Homo sapiens: one gene and its partners. The protein of the gene in region 1 interacts with the protein of each later gene in a pairwise test. Each region holds a gene or a part of one and is shown on either strand. Other genes may lie near its edges.

What was found. Proteins that work in one complex are often made in the same cells at the same time.
Region 2: the proteins of CHCHD2 (region 1) and ZMYND12 interact in binary tests that used the Homo sapiens proteins (3 or more experiments, as listed by UniProt).
Region 3: the proteins of CHCHD2 (region 1) and IKZF3 interact in binary tests that used the Homo sapiens proteins (3 or more experiments, as listed by UniProt).

What each region holds. Positions count from the first base shown.
Region 1 is NC_000007.14:56,103,477-56,111,455, reverse strand, and holds the start of CHCHD2 (coiled-coil-helix-coiled-coil-helix domain-containing protein 2 isoform 2 precursor), read left to right. Parts: upstream 1-4,979; 5' UTR 4,980-5,042; coding exon 5,043-5,092; intron 5,093-6,980; coding exon 6,981-7,230; intron 7,231-7,979. UniProt on the Homo sapiens protein: Transcription factor. Binds to the oxygen responsive element of COX4I2 and activates its transcription under hypoxia conditions (4% oxygen), as well as normoxia conditions (20% oxygen).
Region 2 is NC_000001.11:42,439,003-42,446,036, reverse strand, and holds part of ZMYND12 (zinc finger MYND domain-containing protein 12), read left to right. Parts: intron 1-6,011; coding exon 6,012-6,181; intron 6,182-7,034. UniProt on the Homo sapiens protein: Required for sperm flagellum function and male fertility.
Region 3 is NC_000017.11:39,757,198-39,763,326, forward strand, and holds the end of IKZF3 (zinc finger protein Aiolos), read right to left. Parts: 3' UTR 521-6,129; downstream 1-520. UniProt on the Homo sapiens protein: Transcription factor that plays an important role in the regulation of lymphocyte differentiation. Plays an essential role in regulation of B-cell differentiation, proliferation and maturation to an effector state.

The DNA.
Region 1 (7,979 bases):
GCCTCCCAAAGTGCTGGGATTACAGGCATGAGCCACTGCACCTGGCCTTTTTAATTAAATTTAAATTGTAAATGTGGTCACTGTAGGAAATATGTGTATTACTTATCTACTGCTATGTAACAAATTACTCCAAACCTAGTGGCTTAAAATAAATACTTAGGGCCAGGCACAGTGGCTCATGCCTGTAATCCCAACACTTTGGGAGGCCGAGGTGGGCAGATCACAAGTCCAGAAGTTCAAGACCAGCCTGGGCGACATCATGAGACTCCATCTCTACAGAAAATGCAAAAATTAGCCAACCATGGTGGTGCGCACCTGTGGTCCCAGCTACTCAGGACGCTGATGCAGGAGAATCACTTGAGCCCGGGGGGCAGAGGTTGTAGTGAGCCAAGATCACACCACTGCACTCCAGCCTGGGTGACAGAGTGAGAGACTGTCTCAAAAATAAATAAATATAAAAAAAACTTAGATCTCCATTTCTGTGGGTCAGGAATTCAGGAGTGACATAGCTGGGTCATTTGGGCTCAGGGTGTCTCATGACATTGCAGTCAAGCTGTCGACTGAGACTGCAGTCACCTAAAGCCTGTTTCCAAGGTGGCTCACTTAAGGTGACTGCTGACCTGAGGCCTCACTTCCTGTCACATGAGCCTCTCTACAGGCTGCTTAGGTGTCATGGTGTGACAGCTGGCTTTCCCAAGTGAGTAATCAAAGAGTGAACAAGGAGGAAGCCACAGTACCTTTTATGATGTAGTTTGCAAAGTTGCAAACCATCACTTTTGCTTTTTCCTATCTGTCAGAAGGGAATCAGTTAACCCAGCCCCCACTCAAGGGGATAGGGACTGGGCTCCACCTTTTGAAGAGAATATCAAAGAATTTGTGGACATATTTTAAACTACCATGCTATGTTTAATTATGGCAAGTATGGTCACTGTAGAAAAACTGGAAAATAGGGACAAGCAAAAAAAAAAAAAGTCACTTATAATTCCATGACTCAATGGATGACAGTACTAGTTGGGTATATATAATTCCAATATTCAAAATATATATTTACTTTCTCAAACTATAAACACACTGTGTACTATTGTGTAATCTTCTCTTTCACACAATGTATTGTATGTATTGTAAAAATACCTTTCACGTCAAATATTCTTTCCTAACTTTTTTTTTTCTTGAGACGGAGTTTCCTTCTTGTCGCCCAGGCTGGAGTGCAGTGGTGCAATCTCTACTCACTGCAACCTCCGCCTCCCGGGTTCAAGCAATTCTCCTGTCTCAGCCTCCCAAGTAGCTGGGATTACAAGCATGAGCCACCCACACCCAGATAATTTTTTGTATTTTTAGTAGAGATGGGGTTTCACCATGTTGGCCAGGCTGGTCTCAAACTCCTGACCTCAAGTGATCCACCCACCTCAGCTCCCCAAAGTGCTGGGATTACAGGTTTGATCCACCGTGCCCAGCCCCTCATAATATTTTTTAATGGCTGCATACATTTCATCATATATATGTATCATAACTTATTTAACGAATTCTATTATAGGACACTTAGGTTGTTTACAAGTTTTTCCTGTTTTACACATTTTGTTAAATAAACATCCCTACGACACATTTATTTGTACAATCTTCACTGTTTCTTAAATTCCTAGAAGTAAAATTTCTGGAATACAGTTTGCATAATTTTAAAACTTCAAACACCTGTTACCTAATTTGAGCAGAATGTTTACTACAATATTCAAGAGTCCATTCAGCCAATGTCATATCTATGATAAAACCTGCAAAAGTTCGGATATTAATAACTGTAAGTAAATTTGTTGAGAGTGACTGAAATCACTATGGGATGAGAAGTTGCTATAGAAATTTTACTAAAGAGTGAACTAGCCAGGCACAGTGGCTCACACTTGTAATTCTAGCACTTTGGGAGGCCAAGGCAGGTGGATCACTTGAGGTCAGGAGTTTGAGACCAGCCTAACCAACATGGTGAAACCCCATCTCTACTAAAAATACAAAATTAGTCAGGTATGGTGGTGCACACCTGTAATCCCAGCTACTTGCGAGGCTGAGGCAGGAGAATTGCTTCAACCTGTGAGGTGGAGGTTGCAGCGAGCCAAGATTGCGCCTGGGCAACAAGAGCGAAACTCTGTCTCAAAAAAACAGAGTGAACTTCACACATCTGTCCCAGCAAACTATAAATGGTATATAGCAGAATTCTGGTATTTTCCATTCTGAGTTTTTTGTTCTTTGTTTTAATTAACTTTTTCTTAATTTGTTTTTTGGATAGAATAGATTAACTGCTTCAAAATCCAAAAGCTACTGACTGCCCCCCGCACCACAGACACCCAGTCCCACTGCCTGAAGGCAACCAGTGTTATCAACTTCAGATATTTTATGCATATCCAATATGGTCTTTTCTGTTTTACACAAATAATAGCACACTGTACTCAATTCTACCCCTTCCTTTTTTTTATCACTTGTAGTTTATTTTGGAAATCATTTCACATCAATATACAGAGAAGATTCCTCATTCTTTTTTTATAGTTGCATATTATGTGAATGTGTCTTTTTTTTTTTTTTTTTTTTTTGAGATGGAGTCTTGCTGTCGCCCAGGCTGGAATGCAGTGGTGCAATCTTGGCTCACTGCAACCTCTGCCTCCTGGGATCACGCCATTCTCCTGCCTCAGCCTCCCGAGTAGCTGGGACTACAGGCACGTGCCACCTCACCCGGCTAATTTTTGTATTTTTACTAGAGACAGGGTTTCACCATGTTAGCCAGGATGGTCTCAATCTGCTGACCTTGTGATCTGCCCACCTCGGCCTCCCAAAGTGCTGGAATTACAGGCGTGAGCCACCACGCCCAGCCTGCCATTATTTTTTTAACCAATATTCTATTGGCAGGAATTTAGGTTTTCTCCAATCCCTTACCAACACAAAATAACTTTGTGTGAACATCTAATAGTCTTTCAATTTAGGAATGAATGACTTAGCCACGTTTGAGTAAAATGGTGCCTGTTCTGGTCTGGATTCCTTTCTGTCTTGAACTGTCCAAAGTTCTCCTCGCTCTAAACCCTTCTTGTGCCAGAATGTATCCTTTATAAGACTGCTTTTCTTCATCTCTGCTTTTGAATTATCTAAAAGCAAGTAAAAAGTCTTATTATTTGTAAAGCATTCATTCTTTTAAGAAGTTATGTAAAAATAAAGCTTTGTTTTTTACAAAAGATTTTTATATAATTCACCCTTTTTATTGTTTGAAATCTTTTTATTTCAATACTTTTGGGGGAACAGGTGGTGTTTGGTTACATGGAAAAGTTCTTTAGTGGTGATTTCTGAGGTTTTGATGCACCCATCACCTGAGCAATGTACACCGTACTCAACAGTGTAGTCTTTTATCCCTTACCCACCTAGCACATCCCTCCAAATCCCCAGAGCCCATTATATCATTCTTTTGCCTTTGCATCCTCATAGCTTAGCTGCCACATTATTCACCCTTTAGTTCCAAGTACATTCTGCTGTTGCTGGGACACAGGAAGGCTGTTTTAAACTCTACTTCCTCTGATGGAAGGGAGAAATTTCTGATTGACATCAAGCAGAAATGGTTCCATGTGTGCTTCCTCTCCTCAATAAACCTCACTCCAACCGCAAGGGACTTTCCCATGAGCCCCTTATGAAATGCCACTAGCCAAATTTCCCCTTATTTTAGCGATGTTTAATGTAACTGTTGAAAGCATTTCAGGCTGGGCCTGGTGGCTTATGCCTGTAATCCCAGCCCTTGCAGGCCGAGGTAGATGGATCACCTGAGGTCAAGAGCTCAAGACCAGCCTGACCAACATGGCGAAACCCTGTTTCTACTAAAATAAAAAATTAGCCAGGCGGGTTGACGTGCGCCTGTAATCCCAACTACTCGGAAGGCTGAGGCAGGAGAATCGCTTGAATCCGGGAGGCGGAGGCTGCAGTGAGCTGAGAACGCGCCACTGCACTCCAGCCTGGGCGACAGAGCCAGACTCCGTCTCAAAAAAAAAAAAAAAGCATTTCACACCAAGTATCACTAAAGCACAGATCCTTGGGGCCTTTGCAATTGCTGTTCTCTCTTCCTGTAGTGTTCTTATCTTCATAAACACATGGCTTGCTTCCCCACCTCTTCAAGGGCTCCGTTCAAATGACTCCCCCCCGCCCCGCCTAACCTCTAATTTCCAGTCTCCTTCCTCTCTTTTCATGTCACCACCACCTGATTTACGTAGGCGTTTGTGTCTCCCCTCCTTGAAACTTAACTTCGTGAAGGTAGAATCTTATCTGATTTGGTGCAGTATCTCCATAACCCAGTTAGACAGTAAATTTTTGTTGAATTTACCAGTGTATGGTTACTGTCCCAATTCTGGACACAAATTCTATAATACATATGAAAAGGAGCTGAAAATATATAGTAATACATAAATGTAAAACATTATTGCTGCCTGAATTTAACTTTTGCTGACTGGATCCACAGACAAGAAAGAGAAATACCAAATACAACTAATTCAACTCTGTTTATTTTTGACGAAACCGATTTCTTTCATTCAGTTCATACTACGCGTCCACACTGTGCCTCCAAAAATATTTGCCCTTATAACTGAATGCTCAGAAAGGCTAAGAAATCTGCCCAAGGTCCCCTGGCAATCCAGCCAGAGATGTGAGTCACTCTTAAGGTTGGATTTAATACAAATGTTTGAAGGACGGAGCGACAGGCCAGCTGCCCTAGGGAAGCAAAATGCTAAGTGCTCTGATGCGAGGACCGGAGGACAAGGTTCGCGGATGAACCACAGGAACTTCCGGGTTTTAAAGATCCTGGCGCCAAGTTCAGGGCGTTGACCGCGAAGGACGAGGCGTCCCCGTGACGTCCTGCTCTTCCAATGAACTTCAGGCCTGCGGAGACGACGGAGAACGGAAGTTCTCTGCCTGTGTGCTGGTTGGTTGCGCGTTGAGGCCAGCCCCGCCTCCCATCTTCCGGTCTCCTCAGAAGTCGCTTAGCTCTTCGGTGGTTGTCCCACGTCCGGAGGCCTAGCCGTCGCTTACCTAGGATGCCGCGTGGAAGCCGAAGCCGCACCTCCCGCATGGCCCCTCCGGCCAGGTGAGACCATCGCAGGGTTTGAGACCAAAGCGCGGCCGTCCGGACTCTACTGGGGCAATGACGCAGAGGGAGGCCGCGGGCGGGGGTGAACTAAGGTCGGCTGCGGCGTGGGCTCGCCTCTGCCAGGCGGGGGTAGATTGAACGTAAAGCCTATGTTAGGGGAGTGTGGGGAGGGAATTCACTTACGGAAAAAGCTTCCTATCCAAACAACGGGAAAGGCATAACGTTATGGCCAGGTGGTAGGAAGGCATAAATTTTGACCTAGCTTGATTTCGGGGAAAAGAGCACCCAAGGAAATAATCCGGAAATGGTCAGAGGGAGCGTGATACATATGAAGATTTTTAAATACGTGCAGGACATAATTAGTCTTTTGTTATTTGAGAAGGGGTCTCGAAATTGTTGAAAGCATCTGAACGTTGAACAGATGAGGAATAGTTGAAGTTGCTTTTGGTATAATAGTTCAGACGAGTCACTTTGGCCAGTCTTGTTTTGTAATGTGTAAAATGAAGGAATTGGACTAGATTATTTCCCCAGTTGACCATCTTTAAGTCCTAATTAGAATGTTTATTTATTTATATTTTGAGTCAGAGTCTAACTCAGGCTGTAGTGCAGTGACGTAATTATGGCTAACTGCAGCCTTGACTTCCTGGGCTCAAGCTATTCTACCACGTCAGCCTCCAGAGTAACTGGGACTACAGGCATGCGCCACCTGTGCACCACACTTGGCGACTTTATTCTATTTTATATTTTAGCAGAGACAGGGTCTCATTATGTGGCCCTGGCTGGTCTCAAAGTCCTGGCCTCAAATGATCCTTTCGCCTCCACTTCCCTAATCACTGGGATTACAGGCAAGAGCCACCACTCCGCAGCCTATGTTAATTATTTGATCCGTCAATAAAATGTAAACTCCATGAATGCAGAGATTTTTGTCTCTTGTTCACAGTTACATTACCAGCGCCTTGTAGTTACCTAATACTTGAATGAATGAATCCTGTAAGAATCTTTCTAACTTTTAGTAGTCTGTATTTCTTATGACATGTTGGATATGTCTTTAAAGATACTGTGGGCTATCCGAATACATGGAAATTGTTGCAAAGAAGCAGAAAAAACTAGTATGTCCTAGGCTATTACTATTATAAGAAAAGATTAAAGTGGCCGGGCGTGGTGGCTCATGCCTGTAATCCCAACACTTTGGGAGGTCGAGGCGGGTGGATCACTTGAGGTCAGGAGTTCGAGACGAGCCTGGCCAACATGGTGAAACTCCGTCTCTACTAGAAATACAAAAATTAGCTAGGTGTGGTGGTGCGCGCCTGTAATCCCAGCTACTTGGGAAGCGGAGGCAGAAGAATCGGTTGAACCCAGGAGGCAGAGGTTGCAGTGAGATTGGATCGTGACACTGCACTCCAGTCTGGGCATCAGAGTGAGGCCCTGTCTCAAAAAAAAAAAAAAAATTAGGCCGTGCGTGGTGGTTCACACCTGTAATCCCAGCACTTTGGGAGTCCGAGGCGGGTGGATCACCTGAGGTCAGGAGCTGGAGACCAGCCATGGTCACCATAGTGAAACCTCGTCTCAACTAAAAATACAAAAAATTAGCCGGAGGTGGTCGCGGGTGCCTGTAATCCCAGCTACTCGGAAGGCTGAGGCAAGAGAATCGCTTGAGTCTGGGAGGTGGAGGTTGCAGTGAGCTGAGATTGCACCATTGCACTCCAGCCTGGGCAACAAGAGCGAAGCTCCATCTCAAAAAAAAAAAAATTGAAGAGAGAAAATGATGTAAATAATTTGAAATGAAAATCTTGAGGTCCATTTTAATATGTAAGTTATTTTAAGTTGACAATTTCCAAAACTGGTTGGAATTGGGAACTTGATGTTTTTTTCTTTTCTTTCACAGCCGGGCCCCTCAGATGAGAGCTGCACCCAGGCCAGCACCAGTCGCTCAGCCACCAGCAGCGGCACCCCCATCTGCAGTTGGCTCTTCTGCTGCTGCGCCCCGGCAGCCAGGTCTGATGGCCCAGATGGCAACCACTGCAGCTGGCGTGGCTGTGGGCTCTGCTGTGGGGCACACATTGGGTCACGCCATTACTGGGGGCTTCAGTGGAGGAAGTAATGCTGAGCCTGCGAGGCCTGACATCACTTACCAGGTGGGAATTTAGGCAGCATTTCCCTTCCATGGGTGGATTTTATGAGAAAAGCCAGACGTTTGTAAGTTCCTTAAGTGTAGGAATTGTCTTTGATTTTAGAACCCACTGTGCTGTTAATAGACAATGGGTTTTAAAGCCACATTTGGCCGTTGAGTTACTGCCTTAGGCCAGCACCAACAAGTACTGTACAAATTGTGTTTCTTCCCAAGGAGGAGACTTACAACAGTCCACTTGACTCACTGTAAAACAACCACTTTTCCCTTTGAATATTTCATCCCAGTGACACTTCCTACTAATCTTGTCTTGATCTTAGTTAACAAATCAAAAATCTCGCATAGCTGTGTGTTCTTTTACGTGATGTTTGCCATTACCCATCTTTCTGATGTGTGTGGGCTTTCTAGTCTAATGAGCATAGGTGTGTATACTCTTGTATTTCCGGTGTGCTTGAAACTGCTCCATCCAGTTTTCTATAATAGTACCATTTTTCCTCCCTGAAGCTTCAGTAAACCATTTAGTCTTGATAACAAGATAATAATTCCACTTTATTTGCATCTTTATTTAGGAATCTTTCTGGTTGTAATTGGAATTTTGTTAAAACTGTTGGCTTTCAGCTTTTAAATATTTTCACTTTTGGCTGGGAACGGAGGCTCATGCCTATAATCCCAGCACATTGGGAGGCTGAAGTGAAGGGATTGCTTGAACCCAGAAGTTTGAGACCAGGCTGGGCAACATAGCGCAACCCTGTCTTT
Region 2 (7,034 bases), on another chromosome or scaffold:
CCCTGCTCACCCTGCCCAGGTCTGACACCCCATTCCAGACTGTCTTTCCTCCAAAGTAATGAGAAAAGCACTGGACAAGAAAATACAGCCCAGGTTCTGTTTACCTCTGACACTGGCTAGCTATGGGATTCTGGAAAAGTCACCCTAGCCCAAGTCTCATCATCTCTCATCTAGACCACTGCCTACTAACTGGTCTCCCCACATCATCTCTGGCCTCCCTCCAATGTGGTTTGCATACAAAAATGTGACCCATCACTCCTCTAAATAAAGATCAAATTTCTAAAGCAACCCATGAGGCTCTGCTTGATCTAGCCGTTAACAAATTCTCTCACCTCAATTCTATCACCTTGTCTCTCTTGAATTATTTTCTCCCTCCCTTCCAGTTACACCGACCGGCCTTCTCTCAGTTCCTCAGAAGCATGATGATTTCCTTGTTTGGAAAGGCTTTTCTGTAGCCACTCTCTCTGCTTCTCCTCCTCTTCCCTTCACCAAATTAACTCCTTATCATCTTTCAGGTTTCAGCTCAAGGGTTACTACTGCCTTGTCTAGAAGCTTTCCCAGGGCTCCAGACCAGGTTGGGTCTCCCCTTTTTTTTTTTTTTTTTTAGACGGAGTCCCGATCTGTTGTACAGGCTGGAGTGCAATGGCCTGATCTTGGCTCACTGCAACCTCTGCCTCCCAGGGACAAGTGATTCTCCCACCTCAGCCTCCCGAGTAGCTAGGACTACAGGCACGCACCACCACGCCCAGCTATTTTTTGTAGTTTTAGTAGAGATAGGGTTTCAGTATGTTGCCCAGGCTGGTCTTGAACTCCTGGCTTCAAATGATCCACCCACCTCAGTCTTCCAAAGTGCTGGGATTACAGGTGTGAGCCACCGCACCCAGCTGGGTCTCATTTTTAATATACTTGTTTAAAGAACTACCCTTTCTGGCCGGGCACGGTGGCTCACACCTGTAATCCCAGCACTTTGGCAGGCTGAGGTGGGCGGATCACGAGGTCAGGAGATCGAGACCATCCTGGCGAACACGGTGAAACCCTGTCTCTACTAAAAATACAAAAAAATTAGCCGGGCGTGGTGGCGGGTGCCTGTAGTCCCAACTACTCTGGAGGCTGGAGCAGGAGAATGGCATGAACCCGGGGGGCGGAGCTTACAGTGAGAGGAGATCGCACCACTACTGCACTCCAGCCTGGGTGACAGAGCGAGACTCCGTCTCAAAAAAAAAAAAAAAAAAAAGAACTACTCCTTTCTTCTGAGCACTTAGTCCATTAATAATTGTATTCATTGATGAGATTATTTAATTGTCTCCCTGCTCCAGTAGACTGTAAGCTCAGGGGAGAACTGGATCTGTGTCTATTCTTAATTATCACGGATGTCTTCACACTCAGCCCAGTACTTAGCACAGAGAAGGTACTAAAAAGATAATTTCACAGTACCTGAAACCTCGTGAGCACTGTGTAAGTATGTGTTGAATCTGAGTTGTCTTCACAGGATTCTTTTAAGGGTGAAATGAGTTCGAGTGTAATGACCATGAAAGTGCTTTGAAGTCTGGAAAGTACTGTCTAAATGGAAGATTTCACTGTAACTTCACAGTCATTGGTTTAAAACCTTGCTAACGTTTCTGGAAGTCTAAAGAAATCACTTTCCTGTGCACATGTTTCTTTCCCATCTTAGAGATTACTTCAGACTGGAGTGATTTGGAAGCAGGAGAGCCTGAGTTCAAATATCATCTCTTTCTTTACTGTCTGGGTGATCGTAGGCACCAAGCTCTTCCTCACTCAGAGCTCTCACATATATGGTTCCTTCTGCCTGGGATGCTCTTTTCTCTCTCATACGTGGCTGGCTTTTGATCATCCTTCAGGTGTCTGCTTAAACTGGCCAGGCATGGTGACTCCCACCTGTAATTTCAGCACTTCGGGAAGTCGAAATGGGAGGATCTCTTGAGCCCAGGAATTCAAGATCAGCCTGGGCAACCTAGCAAGACCTCATCTCTTAAAACAAAAAAATTAGGCGGTCATGGTGGCATGCACTTATAGTAGTCCCAGCTACTTGGGAGACTGAGGTGGGAGGATTGCTTGAGCCCAGCAGGTGGAGGCTGCAGTGAGCTAGGATTTTGGTTACTGTGTTCTGTTCATTTCCTTCACAGCACTCATGTTTTGTCTATTTATTGTATGCCTACTTCACTTGATTTTAAGCTTCTTGGAGTCAGGGATCATGTCTTAGTGTGCATTGAGCATCATGCATTGTGATAGAGACTCAATCAATTAGGTGAATATATGTTTGGTTGAATGAATGAATGAAGTTGCCTCCTCTTCAAATTCCTCATCTGATGATTATTTCACAGGGTTGTTAGCAGACTTAGACCACCGATGCAAAGGGACTAGCACAATGTTGGGCAAATAACAGGTCTTCAATAAATACAGATTCCCTTTTCTTCCCCTGGGCACCTCACAGCCACAACCTTTGACTCAGCTGTGACTGCTGTATGCTGCATTCCTTCACTTTCATCACCAAGTCCTGCAAAATCTTCTCCCATAATATCTCCCAGATCTGCCGTTAACCCAGTGTAAGCCTGTTGCCTCACCCTTCAGACAAGTACCACTGGTCTGTAAGTGGCTGTCCTTTCCCAATTCCATACACTAGTAAAATCACCCTAAGGGATAGTATCACTTCCTTTATGTCTCCACCACCTCCACTTCACCCTATGCCTCTCCAGGTAGGCACTGTCCATAAGAGGCAGGCCTGAACTTACGCACTCACTGGTCACAAGCTTAGTTCTGACTGTAATCTCATGGGCTAGTAGTAGCCCATTCTTCTCACCGTACTCTCTCTCTCTAGCCTCACAGTTTATTCTCCCAAGTATGCCTTTTCCTTTAGGACTGATGCTTGTTTAGATGCTGGTTCAGCTGGGCCTTGGAGTCTTCATTCTTTGGCATTGCCTCCTTGAGTGAGAACTGGATGTTGAAAATTTTAAATTTCCAATATTTGTCAATGCCCTGTCCCATTTTTTTCCCATCTAAACAATCTTAGTTAAGAGTCATTTGCTTCTTCAAATGTGAGAGGACTTCAGCCTAAACCTCATATTTTATAGACAAAGCCTGGAGGGAAGATGTGACTTGCCATGTTCACATGAGCCAGGATCAGGGACTAGGCCTCGTGCTCCTAATCTAGTAGTTTCCCATTTTAGTTTGCACTTTGACCTTCCATCAGGCAAAGTTACTTCCTTCTTCTTGTAGACTGCTTCCTCTTCATCTCTTTTCCTTTAATTCAGTGATGTAGGGTTACAACTAGAATAAAAGCATGCTTACATATGAACTAGGTCTGACAGGAAGGACACAGAGGAGCAGAGGGTTGGCTTATGAGGGGTTCGTGTCCTTACCTCTTAACCCTTTGTTGATGCCATTTCTGCTGCAGCACCTATCACACCAATGCTTCGCCCCCAGAGCACGCCTCCTACCCTGCAGCACACTGACGTAGTGGCTTTCTATTCTGTTCTGACAAATTTCCCCAGGAGTCAAGCAGGTAGGCAGGCCTCTGTATATATAAAGATGATATGTAATACACAAAAAGCTTTAAGTGTCAAGAGTATCTAAATATTAGCAATAAATGTGGCTTTCCTTTCTCTTACCTTCCACATTACTTAGTAACCGTGTGTTGTCCATTTTACTTCCTGTCTCTTTTTGATCTCCTCCTCTTTAGTTCACTGTCTTGTTTCAGGCTCTTAAGCGTGCTTGTCCGAACTATTTCAGACATCTTCCAGTGAATCTTCTACCTTTATTCCTCCCCTCTGGTCCCTCCTCCACATTGGTTCCAGAGGATCTTTCTAAATTTAAATCTGATTCTCTCGCCCTTTTTGAAAATCCTCTAGTTTTTATCCACATGCATCAAGTTCCTTGGTATAACTCACTAAGCCCTCCATGACCTGCCCCCTGCCTACCACCATAGCCTCATTTTCTGCCATTCTGTCTTTCACAATTTGTGCTCCAGCATCACAGGCCGATACAGTCCCTACACCCTCCATATTTGTAGGTTCTGCATCTGCCCATTCAAGCAACCATGGGTCAAAAATATTTTTAAAAATAATACAATGATTAAAAATGATACAAATAAAAACAATACGGCCGGGTGCGGTGGCTCACGCCTGTAATCCCAGCACTTTGGGAGGCCGAGGCGGGCGGATCACAAGGTCAGGAGATCGAGACCATCCCGGCTAAAACGGTGAAACCCCGTCTCTACTAAAAATACAAAAAATTAGCCGGGCGTAGTGGCGGGCGCCTGTAGTCCCAGCTACTTGGGAGGCTGAGGCAGGAGAATGGCGTGAACCTGGGAGGCGGAGCTTGCAGTGAGCCGAGATCCCGCCACTGCACTCCAGCCTGGGCGACAGAGCAAGACTCCGTCTCAAAAAAACAAAACAAAACAAAACAATACATGATGTTACTTGTGGGCTTATAAACAAAAAAAGAAAAAATGTAAACAAAAAAGACAAAAATGATATAGTAGAACAACTATTTACATAGCATTTACTTTGTATTAGGTATTATAAGTAATTTAGAGATGATTTAAAGCATAGGGAATGATGTGCATAGGTTATATGCAAATACTACACTACTTTATATTAGAGCCTTGAGCATCCTTATATTTAGGTATCTGATGGGGGTTCTGGAACCAGTTCCCTGCAGCTGTGACTCTATATAGTTCTATGAACATAACATATTATTTCATATTTCTATGACATTGCACATGCTGTTACTTCTGCCTGGGATGCTCTCCCTGCCTTATCTACCTGGAAAACTTCTATTCATCCTCAAAACCCAGCTCAGACTCTGCTTCAGTGTCCCTCTCCATCTCATCTATAGAATTAAACATTTCCTATCCTCTGACACTTCCAAAGCTTGTGTTGCTATTGCAATTATACTATATTGTAAATATATTTGTTTTCATGTTGCACTTTGATTCCCCATCACCCAACACAAGGCCTGGCACAGAAAGGGTATTAAATATGCATATATATATTTCACAATTGAGATATAATTCACATATCATAAAATTTACCCTTTTAAAGAACAATTAAGGCCAGACACAGTGTCTCACGCCTGTATTCCCAGCACTTTGGGAGGTCGAGGTGGGTGGATCACCTGATGTCAGGGGTTTGAGACCAGCCTGGCAAACATGGTGAAACCCTGTCTCTACTAAAAATACAAAATTAGTGGGGCGTGGTGGTGCATGCTTGCAGTCCCAGCTACTTGGAAGGCTGAGGCATGAGAATCACTTGAACCTGAAGGCAGAGGTTGTAGTGAGCCGAGATCGCGCCACTACACTCCAGTCTGGGCAACAAAGTGAGACTCCCTCAAAAAAACAACAACAACAACAAAAAAAGGACAATCCAGTGGTTGGTTTTAGCACATTCTGAAGGTTGTGCAACAATCACCATGATCTATTTCCACAACATTTTCATCACCCCTAAAAGAAAGCCTGTAATTGTCAGCAGTTACTCCCTCTTAGTGCCTCCCTTGCATTGGACCCCCTGTTAGTGCCTCCCTTGCATTGGACTCCCCCTGTCGCCTGGCCACCACTAGTCTACTTTCCGTCTCTATGGATTTGCCTATTCTGGACATTTCATATAAATGGAATCATACAATATGTGGCCTTTGGTGTCTGGTTTCTTTCACTTAGTATAGTGTTTTCAAAGTTCATCCACATTATAGCAGGTAGCACTACTTCATTCCTTCTTATGACTGAGTAATATTCCACTCATGGAGATGGAGATGGAGATGGAGATGGAGATGCCTCCTTTTGTTCATCCACTCATCAGCTGATGGACATTTACATTGTTTCTGTTTTTTTTTTTTTTACTCTTCCAAATAGGCTGCTGTGAACATTCCTGTATGAGTTTTTCTGTGTCAATAAATACTTGAGTCAATGAATACATGAGTGAATGGGTAATGACTCATATTTCCTCATGTGTTCTTTGGCCTGGATATGAATTATAACCTTCTTTTCTGCTTTTGGGCAGGTCTGGGCCGAATCGTTCAGGCTGAAGAATATCTATTCCAAGCCCAGTGGACAGTCCTCAAATCAACTGACTGTAGTAATGCCACCCACTCTTTACTGCATCGGAATCTGGGACTTCTCTATATAGCTAAGAAAAACTATGAAGAGGCCCGTTATCATCTGGCCAATGATGTAAACAAGCTAAGTTATAACACCTGTATATTTCCAAAATCTAAATTATAACACCTGTATATTTCCAAAATCTGTTTAATTTTTTTAAAACTGTGCATTTCTCTAAAACTTTCTGTTTACAACTGATTATTTGGTGGGATGTTAGCCATAACACAATTCTACCGACCCGAGTTCAAGCATTTCTACTTCATAGCTATTCAACCTTGGCCAGGTCACATATTCCTGAAGTTTCAGTTGCCCTGAAGAGTAAAGGGAGGCAAAACAGCATACTCGTTAAGAGAAGGGCTTTGCTGGCCGGGCATGGTGGCTCATGCCTGTAATCCCAGCACTTTGGGAGGCCAAGGTGGGTGGATCACGAGGTCAGGAGATTGAGACCGTCCTGGCCAACATGGTGAAACCCCGTCCCTACTAAAATACAAAAAATTAGCCAGGCGTGGTGGTGCATGCCTGTAGTCCGAGATACTCGGAAGGCTGAGGCAGGGGAATCACCTGAACCCGGGAGGTGGAGGTTGCAGTGAGCCGAGATCGCGCCACTGCACTCCAGCCTGGCGACAGAGCAAGACTTCGTCTCAAAAAAAAAAAAAGAGAGAGAGAGAAGGGCTTTGCTTCTAGTCACAGATCTGTTTCACTAGCCACATCGTCTTGGAAAATTTGTTTAACCTCTTTCATCACCTGCAAGACAGGAATAATAAAATAGTCTCTGTCTCACTGGGTCATTGCGAAGATTAATAATAGGACAATAAATGTATAGTACCTTGGCTATTATTTTAAAAAATAACAGTAATATCTCTACTTCAGAGTGTTGGTTATTAAATTTAAAAGAGCTAGATGTATAAGAAAGCACTTATCGATG
Region 3 (6,129 bases), on another chromosome or scaffold:
ACTTTTCCCCCTAACACCTTCGGTTTGGGTCTCCAGGTATCTAAAAACTGTATTTAAATATGGTCGAGTTTAAGGACTGCAACTCAAGTTTCCCAATGTGGATGTCTGTGAGCCCCCACACATGAAAAAGTCAGAACTTGACTGTATTTTAAGAAGAATCTCTGTTGAGGGAGGAAGGCAGAGCAGTGACTTGGAATAGGGGTGCACCATGCTGAATGTGCTGATCATGCTAAGTCCAGGTCCTCAACCTCCTCCAGTTTCCTTAGTGAACTAAGGACCAGTGGAACCAGGAACCCTATCTTGTGGGTTACAGGGGCCAGCAGCAGGATCACAGTGGTAGGCTCAGCAAGGCGTCAGGTGAGAACCTTTATTTCAGTGATAATTCATTTTTCTTGATAACTGGACTTTAAGAAATAGAGGGGCAAAATTAAGAAAGTATTCCTTGGGGCGGGATGAAACCCTTCTACATCCTGACACCAGCAGACACAAATCATAAGTGATAAGGATGCACAAGGACTAATTTCAAACATACCAGGATTTTTTTATTTTTCAGTGTAAAAATCAAACATGATAAACCTAGAAAACTATCAGCAGGGCTATTTCTTACAGGGTTCCAGCAAGGGTTAGCATTGTTACATTTCAGAAGCTGACTTTCTTTAAACCATCTTTACAGAGGAGTAAACTTCACAGTTCCACACATGGCTGGGCTCCAGGTAGAACTCCATAGGAGTGACGAGGGAAAGTCACCACTGGGCAGGGAGGGCATTTCTGAGAAATGCAGATGAGAGGAGAGGCTGTGAGCACAGGCTGTGTCAAAACCCAGGGCAAGGGCTCCCTCCCGCCTTCCCTCCCAGTGGGAAGGCCACCCTGAGCCCCAAACCACATTCTGTTCCTTCCTCGTCATTCTGCAGACAATGGTCATCCACAGACCACACGTGTGGTGGCTTTGGCAACCAGAAATTTAAAATAAGCTATGGTTTTTCCAGTAGCCAAAATGATCCTGCACCAAAGCTCATAGACTGAGAACCTGAGCATGCAAAACCACAGTCTGGGTGAAGGGATGTCTGCTTTGTAAATGACCTGCTAATTCTTTGCAACCCACAGTAATTTGGTTTCTGTGAACCCACAGAAGCAGGCCCACCAAAAAGGGCCTTGTCTGCTAGCCTGGAGTATACATGAGTCACTGGCGGTGGGATCAGTCATTTTTTAGGCTGCCCCATTTTCCTAACATGTTAAAATGTGTGTTCTCAGTCTTTTCAAGAGAGGAAGAAGCAAAGCGGCACTTACAGAGTGTGAGATAGACACAGATCTGTGGCGAGGGATTGGGGAAGGTGGGTGGCATCTTGGGACTCTCTCCAGGCTTTCTGGAGTGGGGTCAGTGGAGAGATGAACAGTGAGAAACATTTGAAATAACTCAAGTTTTGGAGCAGCGGGGGGTGGGGTACTAATGGCTGAGGACTCACAGACAGTGAGGGAGCAAAGCGCTTTGACTTCCCTGGGTGCGACACCATGAAGTGTCTATAGCACGTGGTTAGCTCACGCTGGTTCCAAGGGTCAGCAGATCCTCTGCCCTTGTGCATTAAAACAACATGAAGGAAACTGTTAGAGATCAGTTACCTCCATAATTCATTTGTAAAGGAATTGCTATTATGATCTAGTATGATCTTGGGATATTTTTCATGTCTTTAAATTTAGGACACGGTACATTTTCCACTGAAAATTTACAATCATCCAACATAATGCACACCACCCCTCAAAGGTAACATTAGCTCATATACAAAATCATGGAAAACCTCACAACATCCTTGGAAGGTAGATATTGTTATATCCTTACAAAAATTTAATACACCCATTAACATTCCTATTTCAAATAGCTCAATCGATATCAACACATAAGACAGCCCACAATTGTGATACAGTATTAAGAAGAAACTCAGGCCAGCCGCGGTGCCTCACGCCTGTAACCCCAACACTTTGGGAGGCTGAGGTGGGCAGATTACTTGAGCCCAGGAGTTCAGGACCAGCCTGGGCAACATGGTGAGACCCTGTCTCTACAAAAAGTACAAAAATTAGCTGGGTGTGGTGACCCACGCCTGTAGTCTCAGCTAGTTGGGAGGCTAAGACGGGAGGATGGCTCGTTGCTTGAGCCCAGGAGGTTGAGGCGGCAAGTAAGCCTTGATTGTGCCACTGCACTCAGCCTGGGGAAACAGAGCGAGACTTTGTCTCAAAAAGAAAAAAAAAAAGAGGAAACTTGTATCCAATTTATTCAAACTGCAAAACCCTGTGTATCTTCATAACAATGGTGGGGCAAAGACTATCTACAGCTGGGGCAAGGGAGAGGCACAGTCTTGTGTTACTTTACAAGCTCTCAGAAGTTTAAAGCCCACAATTGTCCTTCAGGCTCTTCTGAGTCCATGGTCCTAAAGGGTCAGGAGTCCTGAACCCTGGCTTATTCTCAGAACCATTCAGTCGTGCTGCCTTGGAGAACAGAGTCCTTTTCCTGAGGTGGCCCAGGTCCAGCTGCTGGTTTCAGATCAAAATTGACCTCCTTCATCGGCACTTATATCTCAAATCATTCTCCTTGTCTGAACTCTGGATATAGAGGTTTTTTGAACTATACTTTCTGTGTGAACACAAAAATAGCTTCCCATTCTCTAAAAGATGAGGTATCACTATATATCGGGTTTTTTTCTTCTGTTCCTGGTGCTAACTTTTAGGACAAAGTTTCACCACTCCCTTTTCTCTTCTTGAGCTCACAAGTCCCGATGCTGACTCTTTGAGTCCTCAGATAGCCAGGCTCTTTCACATCTTGAGTGTCCCAGAGTTTCCAAATCTCTGCTAGAGTCCAACATACCTCTTCTCAGTGGGGTACTCTTTAAAGTGAGGACTTAAACATTTCCATTGTGGTCTTATCACCTGGGATTATATGTAACAGTACTATTTTTTTCCTTAAAACATTCTTTTTTTTTTTTTTTTTGAGATGGAGTCTCACTCTGTTGTCCAGGCTGGATTGCAATGGCGCGATCTCGGCTCACTGCAACCTCCACCTCCCAGGTTCAAGCAATTCTCCTGCGTCAGCCTCCCGAGTAGCTGGGATTACAGGTGTGCACCACCACACCCAGCTAATTTTTGTATTTTTTTTTTCGAGATGGAGTCTCACTCTGTCACCCAGGCTGGAGTGCAATGGCACGATCTCGGCTCACCACAACCTCCTCCTCCTGGGTTCAAGCGATTCTCCTGCCTCAGCCTCCTAAGTAGCTGGGATTACAGGCATGTGCCACCACGCCTGGCTAATTTTGTATTTTTAGTAGAGACAGGGTTTCTCCATGTTGGTCAGGCTGGTCTCGAACTCCCAAACTCAGGTGATCCGCCCGCCTTGGCCTCCCAAAGTGCTGGGATTACAGGCGTGAGCCACCGCACCTGACCCTCCTTAAAACATTCTAAACCTCACATTCAGTAGGGCTTGGGGAGGTGGGGGTGGTACAGGAAATAGGAGAATAATAGTGATACAGATGCTACCTGGAAAAACTTTGTTCTGTCTGTTCCTCACGAAACAAAGCCGAAAAGAAAAACTTTATGTGGATGTGAGATTTGATAGTAACACAGTGTTTCACCTGAGCAAAATTTTGTGTTTTTAAACATTTCTGTTTGCCAAAGAAATCTGAGGTTGTGGCTGGGCGCAGTGGCTCTTGCCTGTAGTTCCAGCACTTTGGGAGGCTGAGGTGGGCAGATTGCTTGAGCCCAGGATTTTGAGACTAGCCTGGGCAGTATGGCGAAACGCCATCTCTGCAGAAAAATACAAAAAAAATTAGCTGTGCATGGTGGTGTGCCTATAGTCCCAGCTACTTGGGAGGCTGAGGTAGGAGGATTGTTTGAGCCTAGGAGATCAAAATCTGAGGTCATTTTATATCTGGCCGATTTTGAGTATGGGCCTAACAAAATGTTAAGCACTGCATTTAAAAGGTGAGAAATTTTGTCACTGACAAAGTCAGAAGCTGTGTCAGGAACAGCTCACAGTGGGTCATAAAGCATAAGATTAGCTGGCTTATCTGTGCCAAGGCGAATGTCTTTTTGGGAGAATAACTTGAGGAAACTAAAGACTGATGAGTTCATTTTCTCTCTTTTTTTTTTCTGGTGGTAGTGGTGGGGGCTCACGGGAGAGACACTTCTATTTAGTTTTCTTTCCGTAGGAAGTACCGATGCAACACTTCAGGTAGTGACAGAAAACATTTGGAGAGCTGGGCATTGTTTGTGCATGCCTGTAATCCCAGCTACTTGGGAGGCTGAGGCAGGATTGCTTGAGCACAGGAGTTTGAGTCTGGCCTAGGCAACATAGTGAGACCCTGGTCCTCTAAAATATACATACATATATATACATATACAAAAAAAATAAAAATAAATTAAAAAATTAAAAAACACCTGGAGCACTGGTTCTGTTTCTTTTCCACCCTCAGCCCAGTTCTGTCACCTTGGCTGCAAGGAAACTTTGCCTGGGTTTTTTTGTTTGTTTGTTTGTTTTTGTTTTAGACAGAGTTTCGCTCTTGTTGCCGAGGCTGGAGTGCAGTGGTGCCATCTCGGCTCACCGCAACCTCCGCCTCCCGGGTTCAAGCGATTCTCCTGCCTCAGCCTCCTGAGTAGCTGGGATTACAGGCATGTGCCATCACGCCCGGCTAATTTTGTATTTTTAGTAGAGATGGGGGTTTCTCCATGTTGGTCAGGCAGGTCTCGAACTCCCAACCTCAGGTGATCTGCCTGCCCCAGCCTCCCAAAGTGCTGGCATTACAGGCGTGAGCTATCGCGCCCGGCCCTTTGCATGGGTTTGGTTGTTCCTCAGACCGTGGCCTCCTGGGTGTATGGTGGAAAGCCCGCCTGATAAGAGGCTGGTGGGAAATGAAGGAGAGGGGCCTACAAGGCTCTTGTTCAGAGGGAGTCTGCATGAGAAAGTACAGGTACTATCTGAAGCTGCTCCAGGGCTTCAGTGCCCAGCAGTGGCAGATGCAAGTCCTGACTCTGCCCTTCTGCTAAGATTCTCCTTCACCCTCACCTCCCCAGCCCTGGCAAGGGGTTTGTTAATTAGTACAGCATAAGGGGTATGTACAGAAGGCAGCGTTTATCTGTGTGATGGTAACCACTGCATATCTGGTTCAACTTCAAGACTTAAGGATGCAGAGTTTCCACACATAAATTTTTTCTGGAATTGATGGGCCCCAATCTAGGCTCAGAATGCCACAAAGAAAGTGCCTTTGTGAGTGGTCACCTTACTCAGAAAACTAACCTCAGAAGAATAGAAATCATGCAGCAAATTCATTAGTCACAGGAAAAAGGAGGATCATATCTATAAAAAGAGTCCCCAGGCTGGTGGAATGGGCCTTGGTTTCACAATCTTGAGATGCAAAAGGTGGTCTCAGGCTGGGTGCGGTAGCTCATGCCTGTAATCCCAGCACTGTGGGAGGCCAAGGCGGGCAGATCACCTGAGGTCAGGAGTTTGAGACTGGCCTGGCCAACATGGTGAAACCTTGTCTCTACTAAAAATACAAAAATTAGCCGGGCTTGGTGGTGAGCACCTGTAATCCCAGCTACTTGGGAGGCTGAGGCAGGAGAATTGCTTGAACCCGGGAGGCGGAGGTTGCCGTGAGCCGAGATCGCGCCACTGCACTCCAGCCTGGGCAACAGAGCGAGAGACTGTCTCAAAACAAAAGAAAACAAAAAAAGTTGGTCTCCTCTGCAAAGACTTGAACACTAATCTGGTGGAAAGGCTTCCTTTCCCTCGTTTTCTCTTCTACTAATCCCTGCTTCCAAATTCTCTTTCTCTTGTCCCTTGAAGAACCAACAGGATGTGCGATATTTCAAGAACGTAATGAGCAACTCCTCTTTCACAAAGGGAATAAGCAATCTGGCATAGCTTGGAGTCTAGTATTACGGAAATACAGTGATATACTGAAGACTACACACCAAAATACATCCATTCCTTTAGCTGAAGTCTCAAACATGTTGGGACTGTTGCCATGGAATTTCATAAAACCTTTTTTCCTGAGACAGACGCCATGCCACAAAGAAGGATAAGCCATTTGTGCAGTCTGAGGTGGAACATTTTAATTACTGGCAGCACATAGACGAGTTGAGTTGGAG